Linked DNA regions of Homo sapiens. Changing the gene in region 2 together with the main gene of any one other region gives a genetic interaction. Each region holds a gene or a part of one and is shown on either strand. Other genes may lie near its edges.

Region 1 (2,526 bases), on a different chromosome or scaffold from region 2:
GGTTTGAAAAATCTACATAAGACAGTGAAGACATGTTTTTCAAATTTCTTCAACCTGCTACATGTATCTGAAGTATTTTCTGTTTTGGAAACAGCTTTTCAAGCTTTAATTTACTCAACCATTTCAGGAGAAGCTACTGTGTGTCAGGCATCCTTAGGTCCTGGACACACTGTTTAACAAGATGGGCCCTGCCTATGGGAGCCCATAATTTGAAGGGAAAGTCAGATGCTGGACAAGTCATCTCACTGTGAGTGAGCCAGAAAAAACAGCATTGTAGGTCAAAGTGGTGCAAAGATCGTGAGGTAGGAAAAGAGACTAAAGTGGTTCTAGGAAAAATACAGGCAGGGTAAAGGAGGATACAGGTGAGGTGTGGGATCAGATCAGGGAGGGCCTTACGGATTTCTGAGCTGGATCTTTTACCCTTTTATTTAGCCAAAGAGGTCATGTAGTTATTTTACTAATTTGCATTCAGATTGTTCTGGCTTTTAGAAACTACAAACATTTCTATGATTAGTATTCTTGAAATGATCTTGTTGTAAGTTTGTGAGTACATCTGGAGGGAAACTTTGAGAAGGATTGCTGAGTTCAAGGGCTTGTGTGATTAAGTTTTAAAATTATAAAATGTGGTGCATCCGTGCTAATAATTACCATTCAGCCATTGAGGAAAATGAGGTAGATTTATGCATATTGATGAAGAATGAAGACCACAATATCCTGTGTTACAGGAAAGAGATATTGCTAAGTGGCCCTTCAAAATAGTGTAAATTGTTAAATCCGTCTACAGTGGATGAAGATGTCTGCTTCCTCCAGGTTCACTATCAATGTTTTAAAACTCTAATCTTTATCAGAAAAGAAATATTTCATTGTTTTAAATTTGTTGTGTGTATGGTGAACATATTTGATTATTGGCCACTTACAGTTTTTCTTTTTTTATTAACTTCCGGTTTGTGTTTTTCTTTGATTAAAGAGCTCTTTGTAGATAAAATTAGCTCCCCTTATATTGCAAACTTCTTTCCTCTGGAGTCTTCTGTCTATGGTTTCCTTTACAATTCAGTGGTTTTAAGTTAAATAGTCACATATCATTCAATTCCTTTTTGACTTCTGGGTTTTACCAGGCTTGTAAAAGAGCAGACTAATTCTTGAGTACTTAGGCTTTAGAGAACTTTCACACCTACGGACAAAGATAAGGAAAACCATGATTTTCTAATCTTTTGAGAAAACAGCTCCTTGAAGAAAATTCAGTGTTAAATCCTACTTTTGTTACTGTACAGAAAAATCACTTTTTAAAAATAATTGCTAAGAAGTAAGGTACTTGGATTTTAAGAATGAATGTTACCTAACACAATGGTTCTCCATTTTTTTTTGTTTTGTTTTAAAGACCCTTTTACACTCTTAGAAATTATTGAAGACCACTTTTGCTTGTGTGATCTGCTCTTTTCTGTATTAGAAATTAAGACTGAGAAACTTAAGATATTTATTCACTAAGTAATCACATTACATTAATGTAAATTTTTTTTTAACATAAAATATTTTTTGTTCTGGAAAAGTTTGGAGAAGAATGGCATGGTTTATATTTTTGAAAATTTGCTTTATTTGGCTTAATACAAGACAACTGGATTCTTATCAAATTCTATATTCACTCTTACATCTGTTAAAATATACGAAGAAAACCTGGCTTCACACAGATACGTTTTTAATAGTCTTTTCAGATAAGTGTGGATAGGTTTTTTTGCCACTACACTAAAACCCACAAGTGGCTGTTTCTGAATATAAAATTGCAATGTGGAATCTGAAACCGTATCAATGAGCATTTTGTATCTTGACAGTAAAATCCATTGGTCTATTTTGCACTTGGAATGTATCTTATATTCTTGCATCTATCTTGCATTGACCATTCAGAAATACTGGTTCACTGAGATATGTAGATACCCACATGTTGAGATGCTTTATTATACAATATCAAAAGCACATTAATACCACAACTGATCTCATCAGAAAAGTCTAAGCACCTGTCAAGCTAATGACTGCAGATAAGTTTTCCAAAATTCCTTTTTTTGGCCAGATGCAGTGGCTCACGCCTGTAATCCCAGCACTTTGGGAGGCAAGGCGGGCGGATCACCTGAGGTCACGAGTTCAAGACCAGCCTGGCCAACATGGTGAAACCCCGTCTGTACTAAAAATACAAAAATTATCCGGGTGTGGTGGGCGCACCTGTAATCCCAGCTGCTTGGGAGACTGAGGCAGGAGAATCGCTTGAACCCAGGAGGCAGAGGTTGCAGTGAACGGAGATTGTGCCACTGCACTGCAGCCTAGGTGAAAGAGTGAGACTCTGTCTCAAAAAAAAAATATTCATTTTTTAATTTTTGACAAAATTTTAACGTTTTATATTCTGCCATTGGCAACAAAGGCTGTCAGTTTTCCTTGAGGTGATAGACTTCTTTCATTCCTTTAAGAAAAAGTGTGACAAGCACCCAGGTCTGAGTGACCATGGGATTTCTTGCAGTTGTTAATTCAAGTAAAAACAGT
Region 2 (3,834 bases):
TATTCAAAAGGCAGATCTGTACTATAGATATTTATTATGTTCCCCAGCATCTTAGCCTTTTACATACTTAAAAATAGAAACTCGTCGATAAGTATTAGGGCAATGATTAAATAAAACAGTGTACATAGAAACTACTTGAGGCTGGGTGCCATGGCTCAAGCCTGTAATCCCAGTACTTTGGGAGGTTGAGGTGGGAGGATCCCTCGCGCCCAGGAGTATGAGACCAGCCTGGCCAACGCAGTGAGAACCTATCTCTACAAAAAAAATTTAAAATTTAGCCAGGTGCAGTATCACATGCCTGTAGTCACAGCTACTTAGGAGCTGCTTGAGAGGATCATTTGAGCCCAGGAGTTGAAGGCTGGAATGAGCTGTGGCCATACCACTGTACTCTAGCTGGCGCAATAGAGACTCTGCCTCTTTAAAAAAAAAAAAAAAAAAAAAAAAAAGGTTTCAATAGTGAAAAGGACTATATAGATCTGAAGTGATTATAAAACAAGGAACTGATAACAATGACTTTAATCTGATTATAATAAGCTCTCGGTGTTAGTCCCTGATATTCTTAGGTAATTTTAAAAATTACGTCTCACAATTCCCATTAGGCACGGTTTCTCTTTCTGTTGAAGTGCTGATATTTTATTGTGGGGTAAAGTGGAGATTCAGCTGCATAAAGACCTGGAATAGGTATAAATATTCAAATTTGGCTTCACAGAGAAGACTTGTGACTAGATTTTTCTAAAATGAAAAGACATGTTTGGCTTATGACTTAAAACAGTCAAACATGTTTGGTCAAAATAATACATATACTAACATCTGAGTGCTCAGCTGTAGTCCTACCTTTGAGTTGTTTATCATCAGTCATATTTAATTACTAAGATATTAAAGAAAACTTGAGTTTTATTCTATTGGTAATATTACATTAGGGTTTTGTTTTTACTTTTTGAGACAGTTACTGTCACCTGAGCTGGAGTGCAGTGGTGCCATCATGGCTGACTGCAGCTTTGACCTGGCTCAAGCGATGCTCCTACCTCAGCCTCCCAAGTAGCTGGGACCACAGGCATGGGCCACCATGCCTGGCTAATTAACAAAATTTTTTTTTGTAGAGACGGGGTCTCACCATGCTGCCCAGGCTGACATTAGTCATTCTTAAGCTTCTCAGTTAAATTACATTATGAAACACTTTGTTTTCAGACCATGTAAAATACCTTTCAACTGAGCTCTGAGTTCATCAGTTAACTTCTCTACTCTTTTTAAGGGAGTAAGAATAGTAGAGATAACTTTTTTTCATAACTTTTTTTTTGTTTGTTTTGTTTTGTTTTGAGATGGAGTCTCGCTCTGTCGCCCAGGCTGGAATGCAGTGGCACGATCTCAGGTCACTGCAACCTCTGCCTCCCGGGTTCAAGCTATTCTCCTGCCTCAACCTCCTGAGTAGCAGGGATTACAAGCACCTGCCACCACGCCCGGCTAATTTTTTTATTTTTAGTACAGTCAGGGTTTCGCCATGTTGGCCAGGCTGGTCTCAAACTCCTGACCTCAAGTGATCCACCTCAGCCTCCCAAAGTGCTGGGATTACAGGCGTGAGCCACCGCACTGGGCCAGAGAGAACTTTTTTAGTAAACATCTATTGGGCACTGAGTTAGTCATAAATGTGGAGACACAGGTGTGAAGTCACATTGATAAAATATTAGTGATATGATAAAGGGACAACAATTAGGGAACGGACTCTTTCTGGACAGGAGGCAAGGAAGAGTGTGAGATGTAGGGAGACTTGGTAGTTGCAAGCACAGGAACTGGTATGAAAATACGTGCGCCAGAGAGAGTTAAGTATGCTTGGTGTGTAGAGTATGAGGTTTAGAGATGATACTGATGTAGGAAGGGGTCCAGTCATATAAAAGTCTGTGCTCCATGCTGATTTTCTTCAAAGAAATGTTGAAAGGCTTTAAAATAGTGACAATGAGCTATATATCCTGAAGGATAAGTCTCATATCGGTAGAAAATGGAAGGAAATGACGGTAGGGATGGGAATTGAATAGTTAAAATATTCCGCATATAAGATGATGTGTAAGATGCTGCTGATTTCTTTTCTACTCTAAGGCAAATATAGTTGTCCCTTGGTATTTGTGGGGGATTGGTTTTAGGACCTCCCATGAATACCAAAATCCAAGGTTGCTGAAGTCCCTGATATAAAATGGTTAAGTATTTGCATATAACCTGTGCATATCCTCCTGTATGTTGTCATCTCTAGATTACTTGCAATACCTAACACAGTGTAAATAGCTGTTACACTGTATTGTTTAGGGAATAATGACAAGAAAATCACAGTTGTTCAGTACAGAAGCAATGTTTTTTGAAAGTTTTCTATCTGTGGTTTGTTGAATCCACAGATGCAGAACTCATGGAAACAGTGCCCACTGTATGTCACAATTTCAGAAAATCAGTATTTCATACAATCAGCTAATAGCCTAATTTGTTGAGCACAGAAAAATACACTGAACCAATTCTGATTATTGCAGAGAAATGATTGGCAGGATATTGGGAAATAGAATGAAGGGTGGAAAGAATTTCACATGGATTCAGTATACTCTCCGTCAGGAATTTTGTTCCCTTGATCTTTTTGTGTTTATGCCTTATTTATTGGGCCCTCTCATAGTTGTGGTTTTCATCTATCGTTACTCCTTTCCCTGTACTGCTAGACTTTCCAGGAGACCTTCATCAGAAAGATTAATACTAAACAAACAAAAGCTACATGAATTTTGAATAATCTCATGTAATAGTTTTAATTAATTGAAACCACTGTTTCAAAGTACTTACTGAGTTATATGTGTATTAGTAATTTATCTCAGAAAGAAAATATAACTGCATTTTAAAATAATTTTTTCACAAATACTTTTATGTTATTGCCATGGTTTAAGCTGTTTGTATACTTTCATGCAGTTTCATGTTAGGGTCTTACAGTGTGAATGACGGTGCGCAACTCTACATGATTGACCCATCAGGTGTTTCATACGTGAGTAATTTTGAATCATTTGAAATTCTATTTTAGTTTAATGGTATTTCATTAGCATTTAAGTCTCATTATAAGATTATATGAAATTAAAAAAAAACTCATTCAAGGAAAGTAATTTTTCTTTTTTTTTTTTTTACAACAACCTCTTGTCCAACAGAATTTTTTTTTTTTTCCTTTTTGGGGGAACAGGGTCTCACTGTGGCCCAGGCTGGAGCACAGTGGTGTGATCACAGCTCACTGCAACCTCTGCCTCCCAGGTTCAAACAGTTCTTCTGCCTCAGCCTCCCGGGTAGCTGGGATTACAGGTGTGCACCACCTGGCTAATTTTTTTTATTTTTAGTAGAAACAGGCCTTTGCCATGTTGGCCAGACTGGTCTTGAATTCCAGTCCTCAAGAGATCTACCCACCTGGGTCTCCCAAAGTGCGAGTATTACAGGTGTGAGCCACCAGGCCCAGCCATGTTTTCTTATCATTAATAACTGATACGAGGCAGAGGAAAGATTTTTTTTCAGTATGTTATTTATAGAAACTGTATAGTGCATATAGTATTTTGAATATGTGATTTTCCTTTATTACTATAAACACTGTCTTAAAACTGTATTTAATGTCTTTTTTCCTCATTCTTGCCCAGGCTGGAGTGCAGTGACACAATCATAGCTCACTTCAGCCTCTCAACTCCTGGGCTCAGGCGATCCTCCTACCTAAGCCTCCCAAGTAGCTGGGACTACAGGCTCATGCCACCATGCCTAGCTAATTTTTGTATTTTTTTGGTGTCTATAGAGACAAGGTCTTTCCACGTTCCCAGGGCTGGTCTCAAACTCCTGGCCTTA

The links.
Region 1: changes in PSMA3 (region 2) and PTTG1 impair growth when combined (synthetic growth defect), as found in Homo sapiens cells (one large-scale study listed by BioGRID).

What each region holds. Positions count from the first base shown.
Region 1 is NC_000005.10:160,424,706-160,427,231, forward strand, and holds part of PTTG1 (securin), read left to right. Parts: intron 1-2,526. UniProt on the Homo sapiens protein: Regulatory protein, which plays a central role in chromosome stability, in the p53/TP53 pathway, and DNA repair. Probably acts by blocking the action of key proteins.
Region 2 is NC_000014.9:58,258,017-58,261,850, forward strand, and holds part of PSMA3 (proteasome subunit alpha type-3), read left to right. Parts: intron 1-2,931; coding exon 2,932-3,004; intron 3,005-3,834. UniProt on the Homo sapiens protein: Component of the 20S core proteasome complex involved in the proteolytic degradation of most intracellular proteins. This complex plays numerous essential roles within the cell by associating with different regulatory particles.